Regions from separate parts of the Homo sapiens genome. Here region 2 is linked to region 1. The links come from fine-mapping of genetic effects on gene expression. Tissue or cell type: whole blood. Region 1 holds a variant in brackets; the other region holds the start of a gene. All regions are shown on one strand. Distances are from middle to middle.

What was found. PIP is the estimated chance that this variant, and not a neighbour inherited with it, causes the effect.
Region 2: it holds the start of LDHA, and the variant in region 1 is fine-mapped to the expression of LDHA in whole blood (INTERVAL, PIP above 0.99).

What each region holds. Positions count from the first base shown.
Region 1 is chr11:18,437,079-18,445,078 of GRCh38, reverse strand. It overlaps LDHC (lactate dehydrogenase C), which reads right to left. Exons shown (of 8, transcript NM_017448.5): 6 at 6,434-6,551. Among named protein-coding and RNA genes, the nearest start is that of LDHAL6A, 15 kb to the left of the region's middle. The variant G/TTG (reference allele first, on the strand shown) is at 4,935.
Region 2 is chr11:18,389,602-18,397,601 of GRCh38, reverse strand. LDHA (lactate dehydrogenase A) reads right to left here and starts at 3,039. Exons shown (of 8, transcript NM_005566.4): 1 at 2,966-3,039; 2 at 634-783. The coding sequence starts at 759. RefSeq lists enhancers at 1,178-1,679, 2,944-3,033, 2,414-3,079, 3,344-3,433, 3,080-3,744 and a silencer at 2,134-2,183.

The DNA.
Region 1 (8,000 bases):
ATTTTCAAAGGAAAATAGCACAATACTAAACATTATGCATTTTCTTATCTCTGGCTTGTAAAAAATATAAATTTTTATACAAACTTTAGAGCTGCATCAACCTACCAAGTTATTAATAGTGATTATTTTTACAAGACAGGCTTACAGGTGAGTCTTCTTTATGCCTGTCTGAATTTCCTTATTTCCTACAATTAATATTTATTATATATTTGCATTGCTACAAATAGTGGTCTCAGGTTTGGATTGACAGTCAACTTCACTGGACAAAGAGGGTTTAATTTAGCACTAAGTTTATTTAACTTTTAGAAAGGATACAGGACAAGAAGCAAAGACTGTCCAGCATATATCATTCATATCAGGAGGTCTTACAACTACCCCGTTTTAAAGCCCCAAGAATGCACATAACACACTTGGTTGCCAAGATAAGGCATATATATATATATATATATATATATATATATATATATATATATACCACCTGAACACAGCAGGTTGGGCCTGGACTGTTCCTACAGTAGTGTCCTATGATTTGACTATCAGTCCAAAATCAGGGCCACTATCAGAGGCCATGCAATACTTTTGATGACAAAAGTACTTTTAGACCCTCAATTCTGTACGGCCAAGACTCCGGGGGTAAGTAAAAGGAAAGGGAAAGAGGGTCTGCCTGGCACTTGATTGACAGCATACTGTCTATGAGTTGAAGAAAAGAAAGCTCTACAGTAGATTACTGGGGACAAATCTCACCAGTTGAATCTGGATGACAGATTTATCCTCTCAGGTATTAATAAAATAGATTGAGAAACAGAAGAAAGTTGAGAATAGCTAAAAACATAATCCTTTAGTTGTTATTAACCATCCTGATGAAAATAAAATTGCTGGTGTAAAAGAAAGGGTAAAGGGAGCAAATAGAAGAAATAGTTTCAAGGATGGTACTTTAAGACAAAAACTGATACACATTGTAAACCAAATGCCCTCTTGGGAACAAGTAAGGACATCCTATTAAATCATGATGTCATTCCTCTGCAATTGGTGGTTAGACAACAGCAAATCAGAAGCTGTTGTGTAAAAAGAGCTGAGTAGTTTTTAGATAAATATTAGCAGCACCCTGAGGATTATTTATAATTATAGATCCTCTGCTAAATGATCAAGAGGCAAATAATTTAATTTTAGATACTGCAGAGTTGAGAGGACCAATAGTGATAAGTACTGATCTGAAACACATTGGAATATTTGGTATTCAAATCACACAGGACTTCAATGGGAAATGTGATCTTAATCCTTGTTCCCTTAAAGCAAGTGTCTCAAATTAAAAAGGAACTGCCCGAGTACAGTGGCTCACACCTGTAATCCCAACACTTTGGGAGGCCAAGGTGGGCAGATTGCTTTAGCTCAGGAGTTTGAGACCAGCCTGGGCAACATGGTGAAACCCCATCACTACCAAAAATACAAAAAGTGGCCAGGCATGGTGGCATGCACCTGTATTCCTAGCTACTCAGGAGGCTGAGGTGTGAGGATGGCTTGAGCCTGGGAGTCAGAGGTTGCAGTAAGCCAAGATCATGCCACTACACTCCAGCCTGGATGACAGAGCCAGACTGTGTCTCAAAAAAAAAAAAAAAAAGAAAGAAAGAAAAGAAAGAACTACCATTCTCTGTGGTACAATTATTAGTGACTGGGTAGATAAAGACCAACACTGTGACAGCCCTATGGGAGGTAGATGGGCTGCTCCATAACACTTGGAAACCGCTATCGGTTAAAACAAGTTCCTTAGTGGGTGGGGGGTATGGATGTGCCTCCAGACCAGTTAGATCCCTGCATTTATTGGAGACTGGTCTCCTGGCCCCTATAGCTGAAAATATATGGGCATAAGGGACAGTTTTGTTGAGAAGGACAGGAAAAGATACTGTAATATTAATACATATTGTGTTTTCTAGGGATTAATTTAACCTCTCATTCAAAGCTTTTTGGTGAAACAAAGCATTTGTAGGTTCCCTTAAGAGAATTTAAGAAAATAAAACATACCAATAATGATTTTCAAAGTAAAAGATATTTTGGTAAATTGACCTAAAACTTTCAATTGATGTGATACTTATGGAAATAGTTTGGCCAAAAAAAGAAATACATTTGCTTTAGAAATATAAAAACTGCGTGGTGGCTTCAGGAGGCTGAGGCGGGCAGATCACCTGAGGTCAGGAGTTGGAGACCAGTTTGACCAACATGGTGAAACCCCATCTGTACTAAAAATATAAAAACTAGCCAGGTGTGGTGGTACACTCCTGTAGTCCCAGCTACTCAAGAGGCCGAGGCATGAGAATCGCTTGAACCCAGGAGGCGGAGGTTGCAGTGAGCCAAAATTGCCCCACTGCACTCCAGCCTGGGCAACAGAGCAAGACTCTGTCTCAAAAAAAAAAAAAAAAAAAAGAGAGAGAGAAAGAGATAAAACATGTGATTGAATGCGTGTATCAATACCTTTAATAAGACGCAAGTGATAGTAAATGATAGAGGGGGGAAAAAAACAGTCTAGTTGGTTAAGAATTACCAAAACATTGTGAAGGATTCTGTTTACCTACTGTGTCTTATAGAGTCTAGTGGTTGTAGATGTACTAACTTGTCTTTTCTATTTATAAAATATTGAAGAAATGTTTGTCAAATGAACTCTGAAGAATATATGATACAAAGATAATAATCTGAGGTCATGGAAAGGTACCAAGGGTAAAGGGTTAACAGTGGATTTGAGCCCTTTCGAAAAAGCCAGAAGTAACTGGGAAGATAACCTTGAGTTTGAGTTCAGGCAACATAGTTTTCTAGATATAAAAATTAGTTAAGATAAATGTGGACTATTAACTATCATAGAACTAGGTTATCAGCACTGGATTTTATGAAACCATTGATTTGTGCATTGTATCAGGACTAGCAGTACTGGGATCAAGTATGCAGACCCTGAGGGCTATGTGACAGGAAGTGCATTAAGAACTGTTGAGAATTTCCCACTTTTGCAGTTAAAAAAAAACAAAAAACAAAACTGTTGAGAACTAAAGGCAGCCGCTTTCCTGTGCTGGGGAAGTCTGCCCCCATGTCAGCTTCCTTCTGTGTAACTGAGTGTGCCCCAAGCAGTGATAGGGCCTAGAAGCTACACCTAAGCATTGCAATACTGTTGTTTTGTTTTGTTTTGTTTTTAGACGGAGTCTCCCTCTGTCGCCCATGCTGGAGTGCAGTGGCGTAACCTCAACTCACAGCAACCTCCACCTCCTGGGTTCAAGTGATGCCTCAGCCTCCCAAATAGCTGGGATTACAGGCGCCCGCCACCAAGCCCAGCTAATTTTTGTATTTTTAGTAGAGACAGGGTTTCACCATGTTGGGCCAGGCTGGTCTTGAACTCCTGACCTTAAGAAGTGATCTAACCGCCTCAGCCTCCCAAAGTGCTGGGATTACAGGCATGAGCCACCACGCCCAGCCGCATTGAAATATCTTCTAAAGGGCCGGGTGTGGTGGCTCATGCCTGTAATCCCAGCACTTTGGGAGGCCAAGGTGGGCAGATCATGAGGTCAAGAGATTAAGACTCCTGGCCAACATGGTGAAACCCCGTTTCTACTAAAAATACAAAAATTAGCTGAGCATGGTGGCGCGTGCTTGTAGTCCCAGCTACTCAGGAGGCTGAGGCAGGAGAATTGCTTGAACCCGGGAGGCGGAGTGCAGAGACCACACCACTGCACTCCAGCCTGGCGACAAAGCAAGACCCCATCTCAAATAAAAAAAAAAGAAAAGAAATACCTTCTAAAGAAGATACTGATATGCTATACTGTGTTTTCTTCCTGGTATCCTTTCACCATGCTAGATAAACTTAATGCTAGGTGAAAACCTATTATGTCCTGTGAGTCGGACAGTCTGAATTTCAGACAACAATTCGTGGCTATATACTTTTAATATTGTTGTTGTTGTTTTTTGTTTTTTTTTTAAGAGATGAGGTCTCACTCTGTTGCCCAGGTTGGAATGCAGTGGACTATCGTTGTTCATTGCAATCTTGCATTCCTGGGCTCAAGTAATCCTCCCATCTCAATCTCCCAGGTAGCTAAGACTACAGGTATGCAACACTACAACTAGTTAATTTTTTAATTTATTTTATTTTATTTATTTATTTTTTTAGAGACAGGATTTTTCTCTGCTGTCCAGGCTAGTGTGCAGTGGTGTGATCATACCTCTGCGAGTTTGAGTTGAGCCTAAAACGCCTGGGCTCAAGTGATCTTCCTGCCTCAACCACCCCAGTAGCTGGGACTACAGACATACCACCATGCCTGGCTAATTTTTTAAAATTTTTTGTGGAGACATGATCTCACTCTGTTGCCCCAGCTGATCTGAAACTCCTGGCCTCAAACAATCCTCCTACCTCAGCCTCCCAAAGGGTTGGGATTACAGATGTGAGCCACTGCACCCAGCCTTAACTGCTTTTTTAACTACGGTAAAATTTATCATCTTAACAATTACAGTTCAGTGGCATTAAGTGCATTAACACTGCTGTGCAGTCATTACTACTATCCTCTCTCAAATGTTTTCATCTTCCCAAACTGTAGCTCTGTACTCATACACATTGCCATGTTACTTTTTATAACCAAAAATAAAATAATATAAACTTTTAAAACTAAAAGGCATTTAAGAGAATAAAAACTCACCCATGATCACTTGTTATATTATGACTTTTTAGTCTCTGCCCTAATTCTTACACATTTTTGTTTTATTATTTTATTTTATTTATTTATTTGTTTGTTTTCTTTGAAACAGAGTCTTGCTCTGTTGCCAGGCTGGAGTGCACTGGTGTGATCTTGGCTCACTGCAACCTCCGCCTCCCAGGTTCAGGCGATTCTCCTGCCGCAGCCTCCTGAGTAGCTGGGATTACAGGGGCACACCACCACACCCGGCTAATTTTTTTTTTTTTTTTTTTT[G/TTG]TATTTTAGTAGAGACGGAGTTTCACCATATTGGCCAGGATGGTCTTGATCTCCTGACCTCATGATCAGCCCACCTAGGCCTTCCAAAATGCTGGGATTACAGGCATAAGCCACTGCGCCCAGCCTATTATTTTATTTATTTATCTTTTTTCTGAGACAGAGTCTTGCTCTGTTGCCCAGGCTGGATTGCACTGGCACAATATTGGCTCACTGCAACCTCTGCCTCCTAGGTTCAAGCAATTCTTGTGCCTCAGCCTCCCAAGTAGCTGGGATTACAGGCACGCACAACCACAGCTGGCTAATTTTTGTTTTTTTTTTTTTTTTTTTTTTTTTAGTAGAGACGGTTTTCACCATGTTGGCCAGGCTGGTCTCGAACTCCTGACCTCAGGTGATCTGCCCACCTTGGCCTCCCAAAGTATTGGGATTATAGGCGTGAGCCACCATGCCTGGCCTCTTACACATTTTTGTAGGGTTGTTTTAAGTATACATACAGTAGACTTGTGGTTTTTGTTAAGTTCAATATTCCAAGCTGTGAATATCCAAAAGTGATTTTTAAGTTCTTTTTTTTTTTTTTTTTTTTTGAGATGGAGTTTCACTCTTGTTGCCCAGGCTGGAGTGCAATGGCGCTGTCTTGGCTCACTGCAACCTCTGCCTCCTGGGTTCCAGTGATTCTCCTGCCTCAGCCTCCCAAGTACCTGGGATTACAGGCGCCCATCACCACACCGAGCTAATTTTTGTATTTTTAGAAGAGATGGGGTTTTACCATGTTGTTCAGGCTGGTCTCGAACTGCTGACCTCAGGTGATCCACCCGCCTTGGCCTCCCAAAGCGCTGGAATTACAGGCGTGAGCCACCCCGCCCAGCCAATTTTTAAGTTCTATAACTTCTACTAATATGTAACTTGACTCTTGACTAAACCATGAAGAATAATCCTGTGTGCTGTTAAGGCTAATATATATGGAGTCAGATGCTTCATTTATAAGAAAACCATATTGATTTCTGATCATCTGCATTAGCTTAATGTTTCATCTACTCAAATGATGAACATTTAATAAGTTCTTGGCATGGTTCTAGCATTTTACATGTAGTATTAACTTATTTACTCTCCATAAGGCTATTATGTAAAGTAGGTTCTATAATTATCCCCATTTCGAAGATAAGTAAACAACTTCTGATATTTTAAGTAATTTCCCAATATCATATCACTAATAAATGATGAAGCAGGTTTCAAACCTGGACAACCTGGGTCCAAAGTCCATGCTCATAATCACTATGCTTTTATTACTCTCAAATATATGAGTTGTGAAATAATAAGTACTTTTTCTTTTTGAAAAATGCCCCCAAAAAGAAAGCTATGTATAAGTCTGAATTTAGTGGTTTTCAGGAGCCTAGAGTTATTTATCTCACAAAAAGCAAGGATCAACTACTTGATTTTTGTCCGTGATATTTATTCTTAAGACTGACTATTAAGGCATTAAGAAACTGAATAGGTACTATTACCTTTGAATAACTTGTTTATGGATATTTTTCCAGTGTTCCTTATCTGAATCCGTTCCTAATTTAGGGTCCAGAGTCTTCAGAGCAACACCAGCAACATTCACCCCACTCCATAAGGGCACTAAAAAATACAGATCTCAAAATAAACTCTTCTTCCCAATATGGCATCAGGAGTTTGAGTTCAGTGTTGTTTTTTTAAGTTAAGTTGCCACCTGATATGGTTCAGATGTTTGTCTCCTCCAAATCTCATGTTGAAATGTAACCGCTAGTGTTGGGGGTGGGAAGTGTCTGATCATGGGTGCAGATCCCTCATGAATAGCTTAGCATCATCTCCTGTTGAAGAGTGAGTCTTCACTCTAAGTTCATGTGAGATCTGGTTGTTTAAAAGTATATGGCACCTCCTCTCTCTCGTTTCTGCCCTCACTATGTGACACATCTACTCCTCCTTTGCCTTCTGCCATGATTGCAAGCTTCCTGAGGTCCTCATCAAGAGCATATCTTGGAGCCATGCCTGTACAACCTGCAGAAGCACAAGCTAAATTAAACCCCTTTTCTTTATAAATTACTCAGCCTCAGGTATTTCTTTTGTTTTTTTTTTCTTTTTCACTCAGGCTGTAGCATAGTGGCTTGATCTCAGCTCACTGCAACCTCCACCTCCCAAGTTCAAGGGATTCTTCTGTTTCAGCCTCCCGAGCAGCTGGGATTACAGGTGTGTGCCACCACACCCAGCTTTTTTTTGTATTTTTAGTAGAGATGGGGTTTCGCTATGTTGGCCAGGCTGGTCTTAAACTCCTGGCCTCAAGTGATCCACACGCGTTGGCCTCCAAAAGTGCTGGGATTACAGGCATGAGCCACTACTCCTGGCCAGGTATTTCTTTTTCTTTTTTTTTTTTTTTTGAGAGGGAGTCTTGCTCTGTCGCCCAGGCTAGAGTGCAGTGGCGCGATCTCGGCTCACTGCAAGCTCCACCTCCCGGGTTCACGCCATTCTCCCGCCTCAGCCTCCCGAGTCACTGGGACTACAGGTGCCCACCACCACGCCTGGCTAATTTTTTGTATTTTTAGTAGAGACGGGTTTTCACTGTGTTAGCCAGGATGGTCTCAATCTCCTGACCTCGTGATCCGTCCACCTCAGCCTCCCAAAGTGCTGGGATTATAGGCGTGAGCCACCGTGCCCGGCCCTGGCCAGGTATTTCTTTACAGCAACACAAAAATGGCCTAAAACACCACCTTACACCATACATAAAAATAGGTTTCAAATGTATAAAAGAGGGAAATGTAAGAAATAAAATTATAAGGTTGTTAGAAAATATGTAGTAGAATTTATTTATAATTGTGTGGTATAGGAGGCATTTTTAAGCAACATACATATTTTTAAGCAATATGCAAAATGCAGTATAAACAAAGAAAAAGACTGATAAGAAAGATAAAATATAAGCAATGAGAGGGAAAAGAATGTCAAATTAATACCATACTTCTCAATAGTAAACAAGAGCCAAGGAGGAATAACTGTCAATCTAGAATCTCACATCCAATTAACCTGTCATTCCAGAATAAGATGAGACTAAAACAG
Region 2 (8,000 bases), 47 kb after region 1:
CTGACCTCGTGATCCACCCACCTCAGCCTCCTAAAGTGCTGGCATTACAAGCATGAGCCACTGTGCCCCGCCTCAGACATTTTAATGTTGTAAGCTGCCTCAATTTCTTTTAAATATAAATCAGCTTTCAATAGTGTAATAAGGAGTGCTTTACTCACAATTTCTTTTTTCTAATTAAATTTTAGCTCCATAATTGATAACAAAATTGCTATCCAAGGCACAGGGGCAATGAGATTTGAGTGGGAGAACTTATGATTTCCCATATAATTTTACCAATAAATGACAATTTTTGAATTGTCATTTTCAATTCAAAAATCACTTTAAAAGAATTTTGGCTCATTTAAAATCATGGACCCTTCCTTTTCATTGGTAGTCAATCCATGCATGTTAATACAGAATAATGAATTTTAGGAACTGGGTCTCCAGCCTGACAACCTTTGATTCTTTTTAATTTCAGATACACTTTTGGTGTATTATCATATTTCAAAAGTTTGTTTCACAGAAAGTTATCCGAATGAGTGCATAAATCTAAATACTGTTACATGAAATGTAATAATACAGTTCTAGGGGTAGGAGTGGGGGTAGAGGATGGGGTCAAGGTATGGGCTTCCAGTGTGGTAGACTCTCACTTACCTTCATTAAGATACTGATGGCACAGGCCATGCCAACAGCACCAACCCCAACAACTGTAATCTTATTCTGGGGGGTCTGTTCTTCCTTTAGAAGATTATAAATCAGCTGATCCTTTAGAGTTGCCATATTGGACTTGGAACCAAAAGGAATCTATAGGAGGAAAAACATTTAGTGTCACTACAGCTTCTTTAATGTTTATTAACCAAGAGATTTTTTTAAGCTATTTTACTTCCTTTGGGGGTATTTGCCACTATAAATCACTAGAGATGACTAAAAAGGGAGGGGAAAAAACCTAATGGTTGCCAAAAGAGAGTTGAAAGGCCTAATGACAGGGTCTGTGAAGAGTGAAGGCCCATACCTTAGCGTGGAAAAGGAATATCGACGTTTGGGTGTAAGTATAGCCTCCTGAGGGTTCACCCATCGCGGTTTATTAACCCCAAGTGGGGCTGGCCTTTCCTCAGACAAGATCACTCTGAGCTACTCCGGCTCCTACAGCAAGGACACAGCCAGGCTTCTCAAGTAAACACCAGAGATACGTGCAGAAAAGCCATTAACTGCCACAAAGCTCAAGCCCAAGGCACAGGAGCCTGCGGTGATCCGCGCGCATGCGCGCTTTGTGGCTCTCCTTCCCGCTCGGAAAGGTGGGCGGAAATCAGACTAATTGCTGGGTCCTCCGAACGCCCGGCTTTTACGCCCCGCCCAAGTCCGGAAGATGGGCGGGCCCAGGAACTTGTGCGCGTGCGCATGCGCATTACAGCGCGCAGGGCGAAGCCGATTAGTCTAGCGGCCTCCGGCCGTTGGGAAGCGGGCATCGGGCCAGAAGGCAGAAGGCTGAGAAGCCCCGCCCGTAAGCAGAGGCAATCTGGAGCTATGCAGCTCAGTGGGTGAGAGGGAGGGAGCTGGGATTCAGACTTCAGACCTAATGAATGCCCCGAAGCAGACGCCAGCAACGTGAAGCCTAGCTGGCAGCCTCCCAGGTCTGGCGCGCAGCCAGCGCCAGACTTTAAATCGCAATACTAGAAACCAGGGCCTGTTAACCAACCGGGAGGGAGGCGCACGGTGTGGCTTCGGCCGTGATCCTTGTTGCAAAGGCCTGTCAGGCCCAGTATGAAGAAATAGTTTCAGTACAGGGAGTGTAGAAATAGCTGCAGAAGGCCTGAGGCCTGCAGCCCTAGAGTTAATAGCTACTTGGTGGAACCCTCGAATTCTTTCCACCTTGTTAATCCAACCCTGCACTGCATTCGCTGGAGGAAATATCACAGGCTGCATCCCCAAAGTATCACGTCTAGTTTTGACACCACTCCAAAGGGCAAAAATCCGAGAGGACCTCTAGGCAGGCAGTCAGCCCAGAGTCACCAAGCTGGAGCCGGGTCTCTCCTTACAAATCACTGCTATTTCTAGACAGCCTTGTAAGGTTTCTAGCCTGGCAGGGGGAAGGGAGTTCCTGCGGACACCTGCTAGCTTCACTGAACGGCCCCGGGATCCAATGCTACCTTTAATGTAGGGGCGGAGGTGGGAGGGCATGGGATGAGGGAAGGGTGCGTCTAGAGGCGAGAGACATGCAAAAACGAGTTCTACACCTCACCTCTGCCTCCTACTCACTGGGAACTTAGAGATCCCTGACTGTCTCCTAGCTTTCGGTCTCCCTATTTGTTAAAAGGAGGAGTTGGTACCGGCGGATCCTACTCAACTGACCGTCTGAGGTGCGGAAGGGCTGGGATGCTGCCTGCTTCATCTTTGCATGCGCCGTGCCTAGCGCAGCCCGAGATACACCAGTAGCTTCTTAATAAATGCGCAAAGGGCTCCCTATAATCTGCAGGCAGCAGCTGCCCTCACGGAGCCCACCTCTCGAGCGTCCCAAGAGAAAAATGCAAGCCGCGTGGTACTCAGCCGCTTTCCGTCTTTCAAGAACCCGCCCCGGACAAGCTGAGGCTTTTTTGGCTCTATGGGCTCCGAGAACTGGACCTCGAGTTTTGCACCGCCCGCCGATTTCGAGCCCAGAGGTATCCCCCACCCTTAAGGCCTATCATATCCTTGTTCCGCATCCACCCGGGCTTTCGACCCCTGCTTGGGTGCGGCCACCTCCTCGGTTCCCCAGCGTGGCCAGAAGCCATGGTTCCCGCTTAGAGCAAAAGCAGAGCGCGGCGAGCTCCGAACACATGCGTTGTGTGGGCCGCCGCCCAGACGTCTCTGGGCTGTGCTTCTGGAAAGCGGCTCCTACACCTCCCGGGAGCAGGAATCCCTTCGCGAGCAGCGGAGGCCAGCAGAACCAGAGGCAGTTGGCTCTACCCGCCCATCCCTCTGGCGCCGTGCGCGCAGGGCCCTACCGTACCGGGAATGCACGTCGGGCGGTCGTCGGGGGCGCGTGGCAATGAGATCCGGAATCGGCGGCAGCGGCTGCAGCACTCTGAGCTGGGCGCGGGAGGGGCCTTAAGTGGAACAGCTATGCTGACGTCAGCGGGGGGGGCCGGCGGACGTGCGGGAACCCACGTGTGAGTCGGGCTGGGGGTGGATGCCGAGCCAGGCGGGGCACTGGAGAGGCCCGGGTGGCGCGCGCAGCCAGACAACCGACCGGCAGACTGCTCCACGTGCGCTGGGAGTCTAAGTAAGGTGCTGCCCTCCAACCACAGAAGCCGGGGTCGGAGCCATGAGCCTGAGTCAGGACGACCTTCAGTTTCCTCATCCATGAAACCTGGGGAGGTTACTCTCAGGAAGGCTTGGATCTGTTTCTTCTTCATCCCTGTTTCTCAGTGTCCAGAACAGCTTCTGGCACGTAATAGGCACTCCACAAATATTTGTTGAACGAAAGGAAGAAAATGCCTAGCAGTCAGTCAGTCTGTTCTTACCTAAGTCGAGTGACCTCCAAAACTCGACGCTGCTTTTCCCTCTGCTGCTAAGCCTACCAGCTCCCACTCACAGTGAAGCCTTGGCCTCTCAGGCCTTGCAGGGTGACTCAGTTCAAATGTACATTTTATTCTGCACTTTCTACTGCCCACCCCACTGGCATCTCATCTCGAGTCTCAACCATACCCAAGAACTGTCAGTGGCTTGTTTTTTTGGTTTTGGTTTTTTGTTTGTTTATTTGTTTTTTGGTATTTTTCGAGACAGGGTCTCACTCTGTCACCCAGGCTGGAGGGCAGTGGCGTGATCATGGCTTCCTGCAGCCTCGACCTTCTGGCTCAAGCGATCCTCCCACCTCGGCTCCCCGAAGTGACTGGGACTACAAGCGCGCCCACTTGCCCTGCGATTTTTTTTTTAATTATTAATTTTTTTTTTTTTGAAACGGAGTCGCTCTGTCGCCCAGGCTGGAGTGCAGTGGGCTGATCTCGGCTCACTGCAACCTCCGCCTCCCGGGTTCAAGCGAATCTCCTGCCTCAGCCTCCTGAGAAGATGGGATTACAGCCAGGCGCCACCACGCCCGGCTAATTTTTGTAATTTTTAGTAGAGACGGGGTTTCACCATGTTGGTCAGGCTGATCTCAAACTCCTGGCCTCAAGTGATCTGGCCGCCTCGGCCTCACAAAGAGCTGGGATTACAGGCGTGAGCCACCGTGCCCAGCTCAATTTTTTGTTTTCTTATCATACTTACCTCTGGGCCTGTATTCTTGCTGATTCCATTGCCTAGCCCGCCCTCCTCCATCTCTTCTTTAATTTGTACCAATACTTCCCCACTGTGGGGTATATTATGAAATATATTTGGTAAGCCCTTGAGTATGCCAAAATTTCCTGAATTTTCTGATAGGAATGTCTTTTGTTATTTATAAAGAGCCTTTTTCCCTGACTTAATGTTAATGAATGAGGAGTCTTAGATAGCCTCAGGAAGGAGCCAGTCATGGGAAAGACCAAATGATTAGGGAATTAGAGGGCTGGAACTTTCAGCCCAAAGGGGTGGATGGCTTTACTTACTCCCTGAACCTACAGCAGCAGCCCAGTGCAGCTTTGAGATAGATCCATAACTGAGTTTCTTGGTTTTGACGGAAAACTCTAACCTCAGCTCCAAAATAGCACAAGGGGCCAGGTGCAGTGACTCATGCCTGTAATCCCAGCACCAATGTGGTTGAGGTGGGAGGACTGCTTGAGGCCAGGAGTTCGAGACTAGCCTGGGCAGCATAGTGAGACCCTGTCTCAAAAAAAAAAAAAAAATAGCAGGGCATGCTTGCATGTTCTAACAGTTTTCCCATCACTCTAGATTCTAAGATCACTCTAGGTTCTGAAATGGGGCTCTCACCTCAAACACACAGCTGGAAAGTTTAGGGGTGGGCCACTGATTCTTCAGAGTACCTCAGGGCAGGGCAGATTGCCACAGTGTTTTCCGGTTTCTCAGTCTTTGCAACAGTGTTCTCAGTCAGGGCTGGGCCCCTGCCTGCCTACCAAATGTGACCACTGCTGCTGGGAAGAGGTGTGCAGAAGGCAGAGAGCTGAAGTTGGCTGGGGAGACGAAGAATTTTCACCTGAAAGGCTTGGGTTGGGGCACTCTGAGATGACCTGTGAAGATAAACTAGGTAGAGTCTTCATTCCCCTAATTTATGATACCTAGCAACAGCTTGCTCCAAGCACAGCTTCAGGCTTCTTAGGCAGAACAACAGCCAGTATTTGACTCCACAAATATGAATAAAACAAATACCATTTACTGAGCACCTGCTATGGTGCTGGCAGCCAGCTAGGTAATCCCCATACTCATCCTTTGGAGTAGGCATAATTATCCCCATTTTTCAGATATGGAAACCAAGGCTCAGAAAGGTAAGTGACTTTGCTAAGGTAGTGCAGCTAGTAAGTGATTTTGGCTGAGACTTTAACCCAGTGCTGACTAACCCCAAAGCCTATGATTTTCTCTCTATTATAGGATGTTGTCCCACATCACTCCATACAAAGGGCAAGAAATTATCTAGGGGGCCCAAACCAGTCCCAGGCTCAGAAGAGGCTGTGGGTGCCAATGGGTGTATCTGCTGAGACCTTGGTATTCTGCCCTTAGACTGGGACTTAGACCCTTGGCTCTCCTGATTCTCAGGCCTTTGGGCTCGAACTGGAATTTATACCACCAGCTTTCCTGAGTCTCCAGCTTGCAGATGGCAAGATCATGGGACTTCTCTGCCTGCATAAACACATAAGTAAATTCCTCCTCATAAATCTCTTTATATATATTCTTCCATTGGTTCTGTTTCTCTGGAGAACCCTGACTAATATAGAACCCTGACTAATACAATCCAAACAGTAGAACTTCTGTACTAAAGCCAGAGAAGAATGTGGAACCCTTGGAACAGGTCAGAAAACACTTTCAGGGGACAGAACAGAATTCTTAATCTGACCAAGTGTTCTTTGGATGTGGCCTCTTCAAAAGGGAAAACCCCTAGCACAGTCACTATGGAAAACAGTATGGAGACCCCTCAAAAAACTAAAACTGCAACTTCCATATGATCCAGCAATCTGAGTATATATCCAAAAGAAACGAAATCAGTATATCAAACAGATATCTGCACTCCCATGACTATTGCAGCACTATTCACAATAGCTGAAGTATGGATGAACTCAATCTAAGTGTCATCAATGGATGGATGATAAAGAAAATGTGTTGGCCAGGTGCAGTGGCTCATGCCTCTAATCCCAGCACTTTGGGAGGCCGAGGTGGGCGGATTACCTGAGGTCAGGAGTTCAAGACCGGCCTGACCAACATGATGAAACCCCATCTCTACTAAATAAAAAAATTAGCCGGGCGTGGTGGTACATGCCTGTAATCCCCAGCTACTTGGGAGGCTGAAGCAGGAGAATTGCTTGAACCCAGGAAGCAGAGGGGCTGGACATGGTGGCTCATGCCTGTAATCCCAGCACTTTGGAAGGCTGAGGCAGGCAGATTGAGCCCAGGAGTTCAAGACCAGCCTGGGCAACATGGTGAACCCCCATATCTACAAAAAATACAAAAAAAAAAATTAGCTGAGGATGGTGGTAAATGCCTGTAGTCCCATCTACCCAGGAGGTTGAGGTGGGAGGATCACCTGACCCAGGGAGGTCCAGGCTGCAGTGAACTGTGATGTCACCACTGCAATCCAGAGCAAGACCCTGTCTCAAAAAAAAAAATTTAAAAAAAGAAGAAAAAAATGTGCTGTATATACCCAGTGAAATACTATTCAGCTATTTCAGAATGAAATCCTGTCATTTGCAGCAACATGGATGGAACTGGAGGTCATTATGTTAAGTGAAATAAACTGGCACAGAAAGGCAAACATCGCATGTTCTCACTCATGTGGGAACTAAAAAATTTGGTCTTATGGAGGTAGTGAATAGAATGGTGGTTACCACAAGTTGGGGAGGATAGTGGGGATGAAGGATGAAGAGGGATTGGTTAATGGGTGCAAAAATACAGTTAGATAGGGCGAGTATAGTTAATAACTTATTGTATATTTCAAAATAGCTAGAAGATTCAGAATGTGCCCAACACAAAGAAATCACAAATATTTGAGGTGATGGATATACCAGTTCCCCAGATTTGATCATTATACATTTTATGCTTGTATCAAAATGTCACATGTACCTCATGCATATGTACAACTATTATGTATCAGTAAAATTTTTTTAAAGGGAAAATCCCATAAAGAGGTGGTTTAACCAAGGGACAAGCTGGCCTCAGAGAATAGATGCTGCTTAGCACCCACTGTAAGATTTTCCTAAAATGGCCCTGGCTGCAGGATGCTGTCCATCCAAAACATAGTGCTGAGTCATTCCTTCATCTTGTATTTATTATACGCCTCCTTAAGAGCATTCGGTGGCCCCTCATTGCCTCAAGAATAAAGTCCAAACACTTTGGAAAGACACAGCCAAACCCCTGTGATCCAGCGCCCACATCCCCTCTCTGGTTTTATCTATTTTCCTTCATGCTTCCTATGTACCAGTCCCAGGGCTACGCACCACATTCTCCAAATGTGCCATGTACTCTCTCACCTCAAGCCTTCCACCTAGGGAGTTCCTTCACTCTGAGTGCCCTCTCCTTTGCCATCATCCCTACCCACCTGAGCCCCACATAACCAGCACTCAATATATTCCTTTTTTTTGAGACAGGGTCTCCCTCTGTGACCCAGTGCAATCTCAGCTCACTGTATGCAACCTCCACATCCCAGGCTCAGGTGATCCTCCCACCTCAGCCTCCTGAGTAGCTGTAACTATAAGTGTGCACCACAATGCCCGGCTAATTTTTATATTTTTAGTAGAGACGGGGTTTCTCCATGTTGTCCAGCCTCGTCTTGAACTCCTGGGCCCAAGCCATCTGCCTACCTCAGCCTCCCAAATAAATTAATTCATATTTGTATATGTCTCTGTCACTGAACTGTAAGCTCCTAGTGCAAATAAACTTTTTTTCCACTGGGAAACTTTCTTTCC